Linked DNA regions of Homo sapiens: region 1 is linked to region 2. Evidence: fine-mapped expression QTL. Tissue or cell type: whole blood. Region 2 holds a variant in brackets; the other region holds the start of a gene. All regions are shown on one strand. Distances are between the middles of the regions.

Region 1 (8,094 bases), 28 kb after region 2:
AGACTGAGGCTACAGGGCGAATGTGCAGTGAAGGGCTCTGGGGTTCCAAAAGCTGTGGGGGGCTTCTGTGGCACAGCCCCTGTGGAGACTCAGGCACCTTCCTGGAGGCAGACCCAGAGCAAAGCTCTGCCTTAATCCTCCAAGATCTTTCTCAGGCCAACTCCAGTTCAACAAGGGACCTGACTTCTAGTTCACGGGGTTGTCCTGAGTGTTACAGAGAACGCGCATGTGAAAGAGAGGTGGAGTGCACACGTGCAAACAACATGCCCTGCACCCCGCAGCAGCCAGGTCTGTGCAGAGAAGCCTGGAGGACAACGTGGCTGGCATGGGCTGCTCCCAAGATGATAGACAGATGGACTGGAGCCAGGACCCTCACAGAGTATTTAGGGGGGTGGTGGCTGCACGGACAGCAGCTCTTCCAATACAACTCGGAGGCTTCATTTCTGCCTCACATGGGGTTTTGTTGCATCTCTCTGAAGGTCCTCTCGTTAAAGACCAGCACCCGCGTAACCCGTCCACAGCCTGCAGCCCTGCACAGAGGCTCAGACTCCTCGAAACCCCAGATGCTCCCCACCACCCGAGCTCCCACCTGCTGTAGGCAGTTAAACCACTCAAACTTCACTTACAGGATTATCCAGCTGAACACCCAGGCTGTACTGCTTAAGGGCTGCAGCCTTGAAAGACACACTCAAAATTACAGCCTCAGAAAGCACGCACTGCAGGGAAAGGCACTCAATAGAACATGCTGAGTGGTGCAATCCACCCTGGGGCCCCCAGAGGAGTCTGCATTTCTCTCCCCGTGAGCTCTTTAATGGTGCACACACAGCACCCAGCACGGAGGGGCTAATTGATTAGCTGTCTCTGCAGCACATGCTGCTGGCGCCATGGCTCACAGCAATTCCACGCTTACACTCACAGCCTGTTTCTCTGCTGTTGGAGCTCTGGTGGGCTGCAGGCTTCACTGCCACAACACACGGGACCCGGTGTCCACCTGCCACCTCCCCACCTGGGGCGCCTCTGGGCTGCTAGGCTGGTAAGAGGTCACCCCTGCCGTGACAGGGTAGCCAGTGCTGGACCTGCGTTCCTCCAGCAAATGGCTGTGAAACTGGACAAATACAGGGCCACTGTGATGGAGCCAACTGTGAGCCATGCTTCCCACCCTCCCCCTCCCACTCTGCCACCATAGGAGGCAGAGCTCGGGGAAACAAGGGCGCAGTGAGAGGAGGGCATAGCACCAGGGCTGGGGTTGGCCTGGGACAACAGAGAAGGAGCTGTGTGGATGCCGGACAGGGGAGATGGGGAGGAAAGTGACCATGGCTCACAGCGGCCTCAACCTCCTGGGCTCCAGGGATCCCCCTGCCTCAGCCTCCCGAGCAGCTGAAACTACAGGTGCACACCACCATGCTCGGCTAGTTTGCTTTCTTTTTAATAGACGAGGTATCACTGTGTTTCCGAAAGCAGTCTCGAACTCCTAAGTTCAAGCAATCCTCCTGCCTCTGCCTCCTAAAATTTGGGCATCACAAACATGAGCCACCACACCCAACTGACAGTTAATTTCTTAAAAAGTTAACTTTAATTTATTCAAAAGATTGTCTAAAGCAAAAGTAGCATTGTGTTACGGAGTTTGTAATGTAGGTAGAGGTTAAACATATGGCAACTGTAACAGGAAGAACAGGGTTAGAGGAATTACACCGTTACAAGTTTCCCACATTTTGTGTGAGGTGAATAGGCTGATAAATTAAGGATTCATTTTGTTGTCTTTAGGGTAACTACTAAAAATGGTAATACCAAGAGGCACAGCTAAAAGACCAACAGAGGTGTAAAACGAAGTACTAAAAAATTTCAATTAACCCAAAAAAGGCAGGAATGGAGGAACAAAGGAACAAAAAAATGACAAATAAAAAACAAATGACAAGATAAGACACTTAGAAAACAAGTAGCAAGATGGGGGATCTACAGCAACCTCATCAATCATTACTGGAATTGCAAATGGAGAAACTCCATGTGCAAAGCAGGGATTGTCACCAAGACCCAACTCCATCTACAGACACCCACGTAAGATACAAAGACAGGTTGGGTGTCTAAAGGATAGAAAAAGATCCACAGTGGTCCAGGAGTGGTCCCAGCATTGTGGTAGGCACAAGAGTGAGGATCACTTGAGTCTTAGAGTTTGACCTGTAATCCAAGCACTTTGGGAGGCTGAGGCAGGCAGATCACCTGAGGTCAAGAGTTCCAGACCAGCCTGGCCAACACGGTGAAACCCTGTCTCTACTAAAAATACGAAAAAAATTAGCCAGGCATGGTGGTTTGTGCCTGTAATCCCAGCTACTGGAGAGGCTGAGGCAGGAGAATTGCCTGAACCCAGGAGGCAGAGGTTGCAGCGAGCCAAGATCGCGCCACTGCACTCCAGCCTGGGCAACAAGAGTGAAACTCCATCTCAAAAAAAAAAAAAAGGAGTTTGAAAAATACAAAAAAAAAATTAGCCTGGTGTGGTGGTGCACACCTGTGGTCTCAGCTACTCTGGAGGCTGAGGTGGAAGGATCACTTGAGCCCAGGAGGTCGAGGCTGTGGTGAGCCAAGATGGCACCACTGCACTCCAGCCCGGGCAACAGAGTGAGACCCTGTCTCAAAAAAAAAAAAAAAAAGGAAAAAAGTGGCCAGGCACGGTGGCTCATGCCTGTAATCCCAGCACTTTGGGAGGCCAAGGTGGGCAGGATCACAACGTCAGGATATAAAGACCATCCTGGCTAACACGGTGAAACCCCGTCTCTACTAAAAAAAATACAAAAAAATTAGCCAGGCGTGGTGGCGGGTGCCTGTGGTCCCAGCTACTCGGGAGGCTAAGGCAGGAGAATGGCGTGAACCCGAGAGGTGGAGCTTGCAGCGAGCCAAGATCGCGCCACTGCACTCCAGCTTGGGCAATGGAGCAAGACTCTGTCTGAAAAAGAAAAAAAAAAGAAAAAAGAATAGAAAAAGGAAAAGATACACAGTGCCAATTCTGTGCATAAGAAAATAGCCCTGGAACACTCACATTAGACCAGGTAGCACCCCTGAAGATAAAGAGGGACATTCCATGATGACACCATGGTCAGCCACTGTCAGGATCACAGAAAAATCCTAAATGCCTAAAAAGATAATAACAGTTTCAAAAAACACGAAGTAAAAACGGACGGAACTGAAAGAATAGAGAAATTCACTGTCCTAGTTGGAGATGTAACAGCTCTCTCGGGACTGCAAGCACAGCGGGTGGGACAGGAAGGATTCGCCGGTTTAAAGAGCACTGTCAACCAGCTGCACCTCATTAACTCTTGGCGAGCATCCCACCCCACAGCTGCAGAACACAAGTAATTTTTGAGTGTATACGGAGCATTTACAAAGATAGGGCTTATGTTAAACAGTAAGAATAAGTCTCTGTAATTTTAAAAAGTGAGATCCTGCAGTTTGTTCCTTGATCAAAATGGAATTAAATCAGTAATAGCAAGATTCCTTTTAGACTCTCCACATATTTGGAAAGTGGGCAATACTCTTCTAAATATGCTTCTCAGAATAGAGGGTTTAAAAAATAAATACACACATAAAGAGATTCTTCTAAATAAAGCATGGGTCAAAGAAGAAATCCAAAGAAAATTAGCACTTATTTCAAATATCCATCAAAATATTACACAAAAATTGTAGCATAGTCTTAGAGGAAGATTTGTGACTTTAAATACTGACGACATTTCAACAAAGAAGGTACACAGTGATCAATACACTCATGAAAGGGTGTTCAACTCACCCGTCACAAGGAAATGCAAACTAACGCCTCACTGAGATCTGCCAAACTTCTGGTGCCGACTGTGACCTGGCCGCGCCTGCGGGGGGCAGAGGAGAGAAGGAGACTGGGGGTGAGGTCCACGTGTCCCAGGCAGGGGGACAGAGGCCAGAAGAAAGTGGCTGCGGGTGAGATCCACATGTCCCAGCCAGGGACGGAGAGGAGGGAGAACCGGACAGCAGCATCTGCTTCCAGCCACGTCACGTGTTTGGAGAGGCGGTGTCACCTCAGTGTGAGGAATGGCCACTCAGGACACGTCTGGACTTCCTCCCAGCCACCTCTCACCAGGGATCAGAATCCCGGCCCCGGGGACCCTCGACCCATAAACATCTTGGGCCTACAGCACCACCAAGCACGCCACAGCCTTGGCCTGGGGCTGCTTCAGAGACACCGCACGGAGGGCTTCTCACTTCCCCAGCCAGGAGCCACCCACGCTGCACCCGGGGAGGCCCCAGTTGCATCTGTCCCACCTTTCAGACCGAGCCAGCCAGAGGCGCCCAGAAAGACTATGCCAGGCCTCAGCTGTGTTGAAACCCAGGTTGGGGACAGTGGCAGGACCTGTGCCAGCGTCTGCCCTTGCTCCTGGCTGGATTCAGTTACTTGGCTGGGCCCCAGTGAAGGCGCAGAGGGCACCACCACCTGCACAGGAAGGGAAGGAAGCCCACAGCAGAGCCAGCACACGTGTGGCCACGCCCCGGCCCAGCCCCCCCTCACACGTGGCCACACCCCCTGCCCAGCCCCCTTACATGTGGCCACACCTCCGATCAGCCCCCTTCCACACGTGGTCACGCCCCCTGTTCAGCCTCCTCGCACATGACCACGCCCCCGTCCAGCCCCCGCACACAGGGCCACTCCTCTAGCCCAGCCCCTCACACGCGTGACCACGCCCCTTAGTCTCCTCGCTCGTGGCCACGCCCCCTGCACGGCCCCCTCGCGCGTGGCCACACCCCTGTCCAGCCACACACACACACACACACACACACACACACACACACACACACACACGCTGGGCCACGCCCCTACCCAGCCCCCTCACACGTATGGGCACGCCCCTGCTCAGCGCCCTCACACGCATGGCCACCCCCCGTCCAGCCCCTTAACGCGTGCTGCCCCGTGCCCACCTACAGCGGCCTCCTCCGCACCAGGGCTGACCCAGTGTGGGGTCCAGGTGGGCTCTGGTAGGCCCCCGGGCAGAGCTGTGCCCCGCGTCACTGAGGATGCACAGAGAAAAAGGAAGGGGCGGAGGAAGCGGAAACCCGAGCAGCGCTGCCTGGGCGTGGCAAGCCCGCTAGTTTTCCCGCCCGCTCATCTGCTTTCCCTCCCTCCATAATAAGTGTGGCACCTGGAGTGTGTGACTTTCATGATTTTCTTTTAGGAGAAACATAACGCAGTCCTCTGTCCCGCCCCTCCTGCAGGGAATGGTCATGGGGGCGTAGTTAACCCCATGCGTGCGGAGGTACACCTTGGAGCCCAGCGCCGACACAGGTCAGGAGAGTGTTAGCCACTGCTGAATGACTCCTGTTGTGTGCAAAATTGTTTTGACTTTTAAAGACTACACACAACCCATTCTGCCATTATTTAGGGTGAATTATACTGCTGGGTCACAAGAAGAAGACGTGGCTCCTCTTGATGCTGAGGGAGGCCTGGAAGTCATTGCTGGGAGCTTGGGAAGAGGGCTCCCCGAGGCAGAGCCTCCCAGGGGACAGAGGCGGCCCAGCGATGACCTGGGAGGTGAGCACAGGTGTGCGGGGCCCCTCGGGGCCCACCATAAGGCCCCACAGCAGGCCCTAACCTCCCCCATGTGTCCTAAGGCAGTTCCATTTGCATTGGCAATGGTCATTTCACTACTTCTGACCTGGAAGCGAGGTATATGTTTGGAGGTGACACGAGGCTCCCAAAGGGGTGCTATAGGGCGCCTTTTCTTATTTTATAAAACTTACATCGAAATGAGCCGCACCCTGAGGGGCAGCCCACCTGCTCACCCCTGGAGGGACTCTCCCAGGGCTGAGGGTCTTCCCCAGATGCTTCACCCGGGCTCCTCCAAGTGTGGGGTGGCCTTCAGTCTGCTGCGAAGAGGATGTGGGGTGTCTGGCAGCCACTCTGCTCTGGATTTGCGGGAACCTCTGCTGCCTCCCTGGTGCCCCTTGATTGGCGCTGGGTCTAGGAACCCCCTCTGGGTTGGAACTGGACTTGAAAAGGTCATTTTCTGCCTGCACCCACCAAGGCCACCTGGGGCTGTGGAGCCAGGAAACCCCTGTCACTCTCCTCAGATGCTGGCCCGAGGGCACCCTCAGTCTCCCTGAGTCCAAATCACCTTTTCTTCCCAAATGACCCAGCAGCCTAGGCCAGCCCCAGCTGGAAAGACTGCTCCCCTCTCTCCTCCGCTCTGCTCCCCTGCCCTCTCTTCCCCTCCCCTCCCTTCCTTTCTTCTGCTGGCGGAAGTCCTGTGCCAATCCCACATCCACATCCGTCACTGCACTCCTGGATCACACCTGGACAGACACAGAACTAGTCCTGGGAGTGATCCCAGGGCCAGGACCCTAGTAATGAGTTATCTAAATGTCTCTGGGTGTCTGGAATTGGTTCTCTGCTCCAACTAGCTTTAAAGGCATTCACGCTCTGTTCCCAGGGGTACCAGGGTGCTAGCTGCCCACAGGAGTAGCATACAGGCACTCAGATTGCCACCTGCAGACATCTGTAATCAAATGGCCATAGGATGCCTGGCCCTGGGCATCAAGGGAAAAATTTAGGGGTGTAGCTGGGTGGGCGGATGCTTCTAAGTGTGCTGGAGAACTTGGGGAAAAAGAGAAAGGCCTCCAATTTAGCCCCCAAAGTCCCAGGCAAACAGGGACACTTGCCATAACAGGTGGAGACATTCCCCAAAGGCTGGGAGGCAGAGTGGAGGCATCGCCAGGACCCCAGCCCTCTGCTGCCTCTCCTGTACAGAGGTACAAAGTCCCAGGCCCCAGAAGGAAAGGGAAGGAGATCCCCGAACCTCTGCTCCAGCTAGGACCTCACTGAGGCCCAGGTGGTGTGACCCTCCACCTACCAGCCAGCCCGGGGCCCGGATCACAGCGTGGCCACTCCTCCTGGGGACTTCCCTGGCCTCCCGCTCCCCTCGCCAAAGCTGCGGGTGAAGCAGCTCTAGCCCACCCTAGCTAGCCATTGTCCAAGGCCAAGGCCCGCCTGTCCACCTGAATACCCAGGGTCCAGGGTAACCAACCTGATCCTAACCCAACCCTGCAACAGGTAGCTACATAAATCAGCACAGACCCTACCCCACCCCCAGACACTTAGAGAGGCATTCGCTTTATCCACCACAGGGTGATGGGAGCTGCTGTCAGAGTTCTCGCCAGACCCTCCCAGGGAACCCCAGACTTGGTTTCAGCAGGAACCACATGTGACCCTGGATGAGCTGACCCCCATCACTAGGAAATGTACCTTAAGTCAGAAAAGTATTCACACTTTGAGTCCCCTCAACTTTGGCTGAACTAATAGCAATTACATTAAAAATGTGTCTGCCCTTCATCTTCTTTGACTTTGATATTAAATATCTCTACTAATAACTCAGTTGCCTAAAGTCGTTACTGCTACCTCATATTTAATTAGGCCCAACCTGGCCACTCCAACCATATAGGAGACTCAGGCAAGAGCTCAGATGTAGGCTCAGGTTAAAGTTCCAGTGTGGATTCAGGTGTGGGCCCAGGTGCAGCCTCAGGTGTAGTCTCGGGTGAGGGCTTAGGTGCAGCCTCAGGTGTAAGCTCAGGTTAAAGTTCCAGTGTGGGCCCAGGTGCAACCTCAGATGAGAGCTCAGGTGTGGGCTCAGGTGCAGCCTCAGACGAGAGCTCAGGTGTGGGATCAGGTGCAGCCTCAGACGAGAGCTCAGGTGTGGGCTCAGGTGCAGCCTCAGACGAGAGCTCAGGGGAGGGCTCAGGTGCAACCTCAGATGAGGGCTCAGGTGTGGGCTCAGGTGCAGCCTCAGATGAGAGCTCAGGTGTGGGCTCAGGTGCAGCCTCAGATGAGGGCTCAGGTGTGGGCTCAGGGTGAGAGTTCAGCTTGCTGCTTGGCATGTGAACCCCAGGCCTACCCTTGGCTTTTGAGCTAGTGTCTGTGCCTGGGCTTTCCCGCGACCATGGCGGTGCATTCAGCACTCACAGTACCGCATTTGCCTTCACAGCGGTGAGTGCACGCATTGCCTTAGCTCCCATTTTTACTAGTGAATGTAACAATTAATTAAATAAATACAATTACTAATGAAACCAATGGTAACAATGCTGATGATG
Region 2 (8,101 bases):
TGAAGTCAAATTACCCTGTAAAGAGGCTATTCCAATTTACCTGCTCTTTGTATTAGTTCTTTTTTTGCTGACATAACAAATAACCACAAACCCAGTGGCCTAAAAGCACTGGCATTTACCGTGGGGCAGCGCCAGGGGTCAGAAGTCAGGAACAGGGGGCCCGGAAGGGGCTCCTCCCCTGAGCCTGCAGGTGGGAGCCCACCTTGTGAGGGCAGGATACAGATTCCCGGCCATCTGCCTACTTTAACAAGCACACACACACATACACACTCACACACCGTGTGCACACAGACACACAGATAAACATCCCACACACTTTCACACATGTGTGAACCTGCGCACACATACTCCACACTGCTCTGTTTCTCTTTTTCAAAACTTCTGAGTTACCATCAAGGACTGGTGCTTATAACACTAGTTTAGCTCAGCCAATCTCTTTCGTCACTACTATAGTTATCGAGCTACTTGTGTTTTCTATTTCTTCTGAAGTCAATTTTTAAACTTATATTCTCTCAGAAAATATGTTTGTTTAGATTTTTCTCTGAGTTTTACATAATATTTCCTTTTGTATATGTTCTTATCTTAAATTTGCCCTAATATACATTTCCAAATTACTTAAATTATTAATAGGTTTCTCTATTCTCTATTTTTATTTTCAACAAACCATCTGTGGCTTTCATTGATTAAATCTAGTATTTTGTTAACAAGGTCTAATTTTTGTTGACATTTTCTACTGTGTACATTTATTTTTAATCTTCGTTCTTCCTGCCATGTAATTGTCTTGGGTGAATATTCTTACTCTCTTACTAGTTTCTTGGGTTGGATGCTTAATATATTTATCATCAGCAAATTAAATAAGATAACGAATGTGAAAATATGTTGTTAAGTTTGAAATGTGAAGCACACAGGGGGCAGAGGTGGTGAGAGGTGCTTTGCGCCAGACCAGACCTTCCAGACTCAGGGCCCACACACCCCAGGGTTCACCCATTTTTCAGTAATCATGAATCAAATTTAACTGTCATTCGATCCTGACCAGAAGCAACAAAATGAATTCAGTTAACCGAACCTGTGGCTTTTCTACCAGAAGAAATCGCAGGCATTTCCAATCTTTTTGCAATTATTGAAGATATCTTAAAATACCATTTACAGTCATAACTTCAAAATTATGGTGGGTTTTAGACCCATCACCAGATTCTGTTTTATGCATTAATAAATTATATCATTACATCCGATCTTTAAAATTTTGATAACAGTATTTCATAGTTATTGCATTTTTATGTAAACTATGAAAACATTATTCTGAAAAAGGGTCCAGGGGTTTTGCCATATGAGCATATAAAGGATTAGAATCCCACCTGAGACCCTGGAATCCTTTGGCTTTTATAAGATGGGGGAGGCGCTGTGAAAGACCCCCACCTGACCACCATCTTGCCAGGACTTACGATGGGAGCAGCCCCTCGGGGAAGCGTGGGGCCACGGGCAGCACCCTGGCCCGATGCTCCCATCTGTCATGTGAAAGGAAATTAAATTCTGGGACCCCAGACTCATTAAGCCAGAGGGAAAAGTCAAGCTGGAAACTGGCTCGTGAAAACCTGCCTCGCACTTTTGGTTCCTAAATAAGACAGCTGCAAGATGAAAAGCCACCCGCCTCCCCGGTGTTGCCCTCATGGAAATTCCTAGCGCCGCAAGATCTCTGAAGGTGTTTCTGTTAAAATTTCTCCATGCATGTAAACGGAAGGCTTATCTTTACAGGTGCCGTCACCTTCCTGCCCGTCAGACACAAATGCATATCTGATTGCTCCCCTGCCCTGTTTGTCTGTGTTACGTAAAATACAGATTCCCTTGTTCTTCCTCTATGCCACTTGTCTATGTCGTCTTATGTAAAAAATGCAGATTCACTGAGCCAGACAAAGGCATGAATGTTTCTCCCTACCCGCCTCTTACATGAAAATTGTGTACTTCCCAGTATCTCGCCCTTTGCCTTTTAAATTTGGAGCCCTCAAAACCTCAAAATCATCTCCGGAGAATGGCATAGACCTGAATCCCAGGGATGTGTCCTGAACTTTGGCAAATAAACCTCCACAGATGATTGAGACTTGTCATTTTTCTCGACTGACATCTGGAGAGATCCTGAGTGAAGGTGACCCGGCCTGCAGCAGCTCACCTATCCGTGCTTGGCACCGGCTTGGGCACCTCACAGCCCAAACTGATAGGACGATTTGCCGAAGTCTGGGAGCCCTTTCCTCCAGGGATCCCTGATCTTCCAGGGTTTTTCATTTGGGGGTCTGGAATTTATTTGCTGTTTAAAAAAATTCCTTTTTGTGGGGGGGAGTTTCCACTGGCTTCCATCAAGGAAGGCGAGCTCGTCTGCGTCTGCATCAGTGGTCTTCAGCTGTGGCCCCATCACTAGGAAAGAAACTGGTTTGGGGTTCTGTCTTGCAAATTCTTTTTAAATGACTAAAGTTAGCATTAACACATTAACAGCTGGTATTCATTTCTGCTTACACTGAGAGCGCTCAGAAATCGTATAATTTGCGTGATCATTGTTAGTTTTGCATCGCTGTGTTGTTGCTTGTTTCTGTCTTGTTGGGTTTGTGTGTGTGTGTGTGTGGGTGTGTGGGTGTCTGTGTGTGGGTGTGTGTGGGTGTGTGGGTGTTGGGTGTGTGTGTCGTGTGTGTGTGTGTGTTGGGTTTGTGTGGGGGGTGTGTGTGTGTGGGTGTGTGTGGGTGTGTGGGTGTGTGTTGGGTTTGTGTGTGTGCACTTCATCCCATAGCTCCTGCCACGTTTGTCCTCTTCTGTGAAGTGTCTTCAAAGCTCTCATGCCCCTCTCGGCCTGCGCTGCCACCTGCCTCTGGTTGGTTTCCACACATTCCCTGCAGGTCCCGGACAGAGTCGCTCGCAGCCGAGTCTCTGCAGACGTTTCTCCCACTCTATGCTCCCTTCTCATGCCCTTTGAACTTTTGATGATTTTCTAATCTTAGTTCTAATACAGTTCTGTTCATCATTCCCTTTGCCATCTTGTTTTTGGGTTTGGGGGTCTTTGTCCTGTTTAAGAAACGTTTCCCTACCTCAGGGTCACGCATAGCCATGGGAAGGCAGCAGTCACAGCGAACACGCTCCTGGGAAGTGCATTTCCACGTGAAGATGGGGTGATTGGGAGGCCGAGGAGGCAGAGCAAACAGACGCTTCTGTGCTTCGGAAGCAGTCCCCAAATCAGTCTCTAGAGCGATCCGGGCAACACCACTCGGCTCTGTGACGTTTCCATTGTTCCTAACATCCCCCGAGTCTGCAGAAATGTATGTATTTCTTCCCCTAGAAAGTAGGTGATTTATTTCCTTATAACAACTAATTGCATGTGAAGCAGCATCTAGAAACATGATGAGTTGGATAAAAAGGGAATCAACGGAGAAACCAGGGTCAAGGGAGACACCTTGAGGCGGGAGGTGCTGGCCGTCTGGAGTGGGTGGTGTCTGATTTTTGCATGGATGAAACCCAGATTATTTAGAATGCTGTCAATACTCAGACTATTTACAAAGACATTTTTCAGGGCATCTGTCTCAGGATATTAATTGGATTTTCACAAAAATAGAGATGCATTCTGTTATCAAATACATTTGACAAATATAGAGTTAGAGAGAAATAGGTTCTCACCTGGTCCCAGAACCCATTTTTTCTGGGACCCCTGAGAGAACTGATACGACACTGTATGTGCTATTTTCTAGATCGACAATCATAATTAAAGCAATAAAGCCTGGCATTCCTGCAGGCAAGGCCCTGCTTCTGTGCTGAACACACAACCCCTGAGCTCCCTCGATCCCCG[C/A]TTCACAGAGGGAGAACCAGGGGCCAGGCCAACCCTAACCAGGCCACCAGGTTCCAGGACACAATTCCTTGCAAAAGTGCTTTGGGTCAAAATTGGCTCAAAATTGGCGGCCATATGCTGAGTTTCAGGCCACGTGTTCTGACAAGTCTCTGCTGGGCACTCAGCTCCGTCCACCCCCGTCCTCACAGTGACCCGGAGAGGGCAAGGGCAACGTCCTCTTATCAAAAGAAAGGTCCTGGTGTTAGGAAGGCAGGAGCCCAGGAGAGCCAGAATCACACCATTTTAAAATCCACTCGCCGGACACAGTCATGACCCCCGGTCCTAAGATGTTCACAGCTAAAGAGGCAGCTTGGTGACGCCTGCAAAAACACACTCCTCCAACAACAGAGTCCAGACGTCCAGAACCCCAGCAATGTGTGCTGTTAAGATCATTCCAGTTATGCTTTGATGGACTCACACACGAAAATGTCAAGGACAGTTTTCCTTACATAGAATAAGAAAATATCATGCTCTCTGCTCACCTACATGTAGGCACAGCTTGGCTTGGTCTTTCCACAGACGAGACCCCTATATAAGAAAAACCTAAAGCTGGGGCGTTGCTTCTCTTGCTTTCTGAGGGTGCCCTATCTGCAATGAAGTAGTTTTCAATAAACTTCCTTCTCTCACTGCACTCTGCAACTCGCCTGGAATTTCTTCCCACGAGAGATCCAAAGCCCTCTCTTGGGGTCTTGATTGAGACCCTTTTTCCAGTAACACTGAGGCTCCATTTCCAGTCATGGCAAAGCAGCTCATGTCAGTCCAACACACCACCTACATCCCCTGGACAGATACAGGCACCAACCACCAGAAGGTACCGGGCACAGCCGGAAGCAGAAAGAGACTGAACAGGCGTCCGTACTCGGAGGAAAGCCGTGGCGCCAGGCAGATTTCCTTTTGTAAGGCATTCCACTCGAGAGCAGCTGGCCCACGCAGGGGAGCAAAGCCTCGGGTAGGAAACCACCGTCCCTCCGGCATGAGGACCCAGAGAGCAACGGGGTGACTGTGGCAGCCAGGGAGGAAAGAGGAGTTCCTGGAAAGGACAGAGCCAGAGGGGACCCCAAAATCTGCATTTCACTCTGCCTAGATCTCCTGGAGACCTGGCCCACACGTGTGCAGGACTTTGTGCCGCCTGAAAAGAACCGATGAGCGGCACCAATGGTGCCACCGTAGGGGACAGAGCCTAGCGTCTGCCCGACTAAGCAAAACAGAAATCTGTCTGACAGCCTGGGGACCGGAAGTCTGAGGTCAGGCATCGGCAGGGTCAGTTCCTGCGGAGATGTGAAAGGGAATCTGCTCCCGGCCATGCCCCAGCAACCCTCTGTGTTGCTTTTGATGGGGTTCGGGACACGCTACCCCAAAGTATGGCACCTTGGCACTGTGAAAACAGCAGAAGCAGGAAGGTCTCTCTCACCTCCCCTCAGCCTTCTCCCCTACAGCAGGTCCCCAAGACCCTGATGTGAGACGCCCTCCCGAAACCCGGGGAAAAGACACGCCCTTCTCTCTGAAGATACAGGACACAGAGAACTGGTGTTGACAGCTGACGTGATGACAGTTCTCGTCTTCTCAGTTCAAAAGAATTTAAACAAGAGACACACTGCAAAAGAAGTGCAGCACAGAGTAACTTATTGCAAAAGAAGAAAAGTATTTTGCAGGGGCTCACGCCTGTAATCCTAGCATTTTAGGAGGCCGAGGTGGGCGGATTACTTGAGGTCAGGAGTTTGAGACCAGCCTGGCCAATATGGTGAAACCCCATCTCTAATAAAAATAGAAAAATTAGCCAAGCATGGTAGCAAGCGCCTGTAATCCCAGCTACTTGGGAGGCTGAGGCGGGAGAATCACTCAAATCCGGGAGGCAGAGGTTGCAGGGAGCCAAGATCATACCACTGCACTCCAGCCTGGGCAACAAGAGCAAAACTCTGTCTTTAAAAAAAAAAAAAAGAGTATTTTGAAAGTGAGGTGCAGAATAGACAGGCCACCCTAAGGGAGAAAGGACTCAGGGTGGGTCATGAGGGTGAGACAGCAGAGACCGGCCATAGGGAGGCTGCCTTTATGGGAGTCTCACCCGATGATCCATAAGAAGATGGGAGAGGTAGCCGGGCATGGGGGCTCATGCCTGTAATCTCAGCACTTTGGGAGGCCAAGGCGAGTGGATCATCTGAGGTCGGGAGTTCAAGACCAGCCTGACCAACATGGAGAAACCTCGTCTCTACTAAAAAAAAATACAAAATTAGCTGGGCATGGTGGCGCATGCCTATAATCCCAGCTACTCAGGAGGCTGAGGCAGGAGAATCGCTTGAACCTGGGAGGCAGAGGCTGTGGTGAGCTGAGATCTCACCACTGCACTCCAGACTGGGGATAGATCTAGACCCCACCTTAAAAAAAAAAGAAAGTGGGAGAGGTGTTATCAGGAAGCACAGTCTGGTGGTCGTCGGCACACATGCTTGTTTGTAGGTGGTGTGTCTCATTAGCATCTTACATCTCCACCCAGGGGTATCTTTTTCACTGTTATAATGAACAAAGGGTTGGTTCGAGGACAGGTAAAAATTAAAGTGTGCGTGCTCTTTAGAAGAGAGTCCCCGCTGGAGATAGCTTTGCTTGCGTGAGCTCAATTACAAAGCAAACACTGAGGTTTAGGTGGTGGCTGTGTATAGTCAACACAGTCATTTCCCTGCTCACCTATCCCCTCTCCCCCGGGCACACAGGCCGTGCTGAGGTGCCCAGTTCACCCATCACATCACAGCCTCCCGTCCTCATCCACGTTTCCCCACGGCCATCCCCTCTTCATCAAGCCAAAGCACAAACACACAGGTCCACCTGGCTCTGGGTCTTCATTTCCTTACGAAGGCTCCAAGTCACATAAAACTAAAATACATTTGTTCGCTTTTCTCTGGTGAATCCGTCTTGTTTCAGGAGCCTCAACCCTGAACCTTTTCTCTCTGCACTTGGAGTGTAGACGCGTCCCTTCTTCTCTCCCTCCGGCTTCACCGTACCTTCCCTGTGTGTCTGTGCACACATTTCCCCTTCTTAAAAGCATGCTGGTCATTGGATTTAGGGCCCACCCTAATCCATCATGAGGTCATCCTAATGCATAACATCTGCAATAACCCATTTCCAAAAATGTCTGTGTTCACAGGTTAGGGCTTGAACATATTTCCTAAGGACACTATTCAGCCCTCCACAAACACCAGCAGCAGACTAAGCCACGTTCAGGTCGTGTTGAGGTGGGAAATTAAAGAAAAATAAAATTAAAAAGAAAGAGAAATAAGCTTTCCCGTATTAGGCTAACTTGTCCTAGAGGCAGCAACAAGCACAGCCCAAACCCAGGAAAAGTCTTAATAATAATATTATCTAATGTGCTCTGGAGACTCTCCCAGCACTCCCTCAATATAGGGAGAAGAAAAACAAATTTTCCTTTGTTTTATGGAATGAGTTTATAAATTCCTGTTCTCTGTAACTATTGACTTCAAGCATTGTTTTATCTAAGCAGTAAAGTGAAGGTCATGAGCCTCTGAGCAGGCCTGAGTTACGGCCACCTGGGCAACATAGTGAAGGTTATGGGATAAGCCCGTGCCCAGGTTAACCTAGATAACGGACATGTGGGTTGCTTGGCAACAGTCATGTGCAATCCTGAGTTTGTCCTGCCTCTGTATCCCTGCTTTCACGCCACTGTAAGCTTGCTTCAAGCTAGCCCACCCCCTTTTGTGAAGTGTGTGTAAAAGTCAGGCGCTGTCTTTGTTCTGGGCCCAGTCTTTGGACATTGAGTCTGCTGGGTCTGAGTGCACTCAATGATAAAGATATCCTCCTGTGTACACTCCAAGGTCTCTCTCCGGTCCTCCTGATCCTGCAACAGTGCTAGGTCTCCCTAAAGGCCATCGGGCCCCTGGGTGGACCTTGGAGTCTTGCTCATTATCTCAGCCATGCTGTGCACATGACTGTAGTCCCAGCCTGGCCCACCCTGGGATGACAGGAGCTTCCCCCGGCGGTCCGTTTCCTGCACTGGCCCCCCCACAGGGATGTCTCCCAGGGCTGCCTGGACACGTCTTCACATTGGCTGAGGGGTCCCTCAAGGGCAACCAGACATGGCTTCTAGTCTAGTACCTGTTCTTCCCTCACAACATGAGTGAAGGATTTTAAACCTTCAAAGCCATATTTGCACTTACCTAACCCCTTAATCCTTTTCCTTCCGTCCCCCGTCCTGGAAGCCCCACTCAGTGTGTCAGGGGATTTCACCACCGAGGCACC

Evidence for each region. PIP is the estimated chance that this variant, and not a neighbour inherited with it, causes the effect.
Region 1: LINC01237 starts here. The variant in region 2 is fine-mapped to the expression of LINC01237 in whole blood (TOPMed, PIP above 0.99).

The regions. Positions count from the first base shown.
Region 1 is chr2:241,878,317-241,886,410 of GRCh38, reverse strand. LINC01237 (long intergenic non-protein coding RNA 1237) reads right to left here and starts at 5,048. Exons shown (of 4, transcript NR_110220.1): 1 at 4,933-5,048; 2 at 3,776-3,851. It overlaps LOC105373978 (a long non-coding RNA gene), which reads left to right and starts at 5,084. Exons shown (of 3, transcript XR_924077.3): 1 at 5,084-5,296; 2 at 5,394-5,542; 3 at 7,135-7,377. RefSeq lists an enhancer at 5,028-5,618.
Region 2 is chr2:241,905,865-241,913,965 of GRCh38, reverse strand. The region is part of intron 2 of LINC01237 (long intergenic non-protein coding RNA 1237); the gene reads right to left. Among named protein-coding and RNA genes, the nearest start is that of FAM240C, 9.5 kb to the right of the region's middle. The variant C/A (reference allele first, on the strand shown) is at 3,821.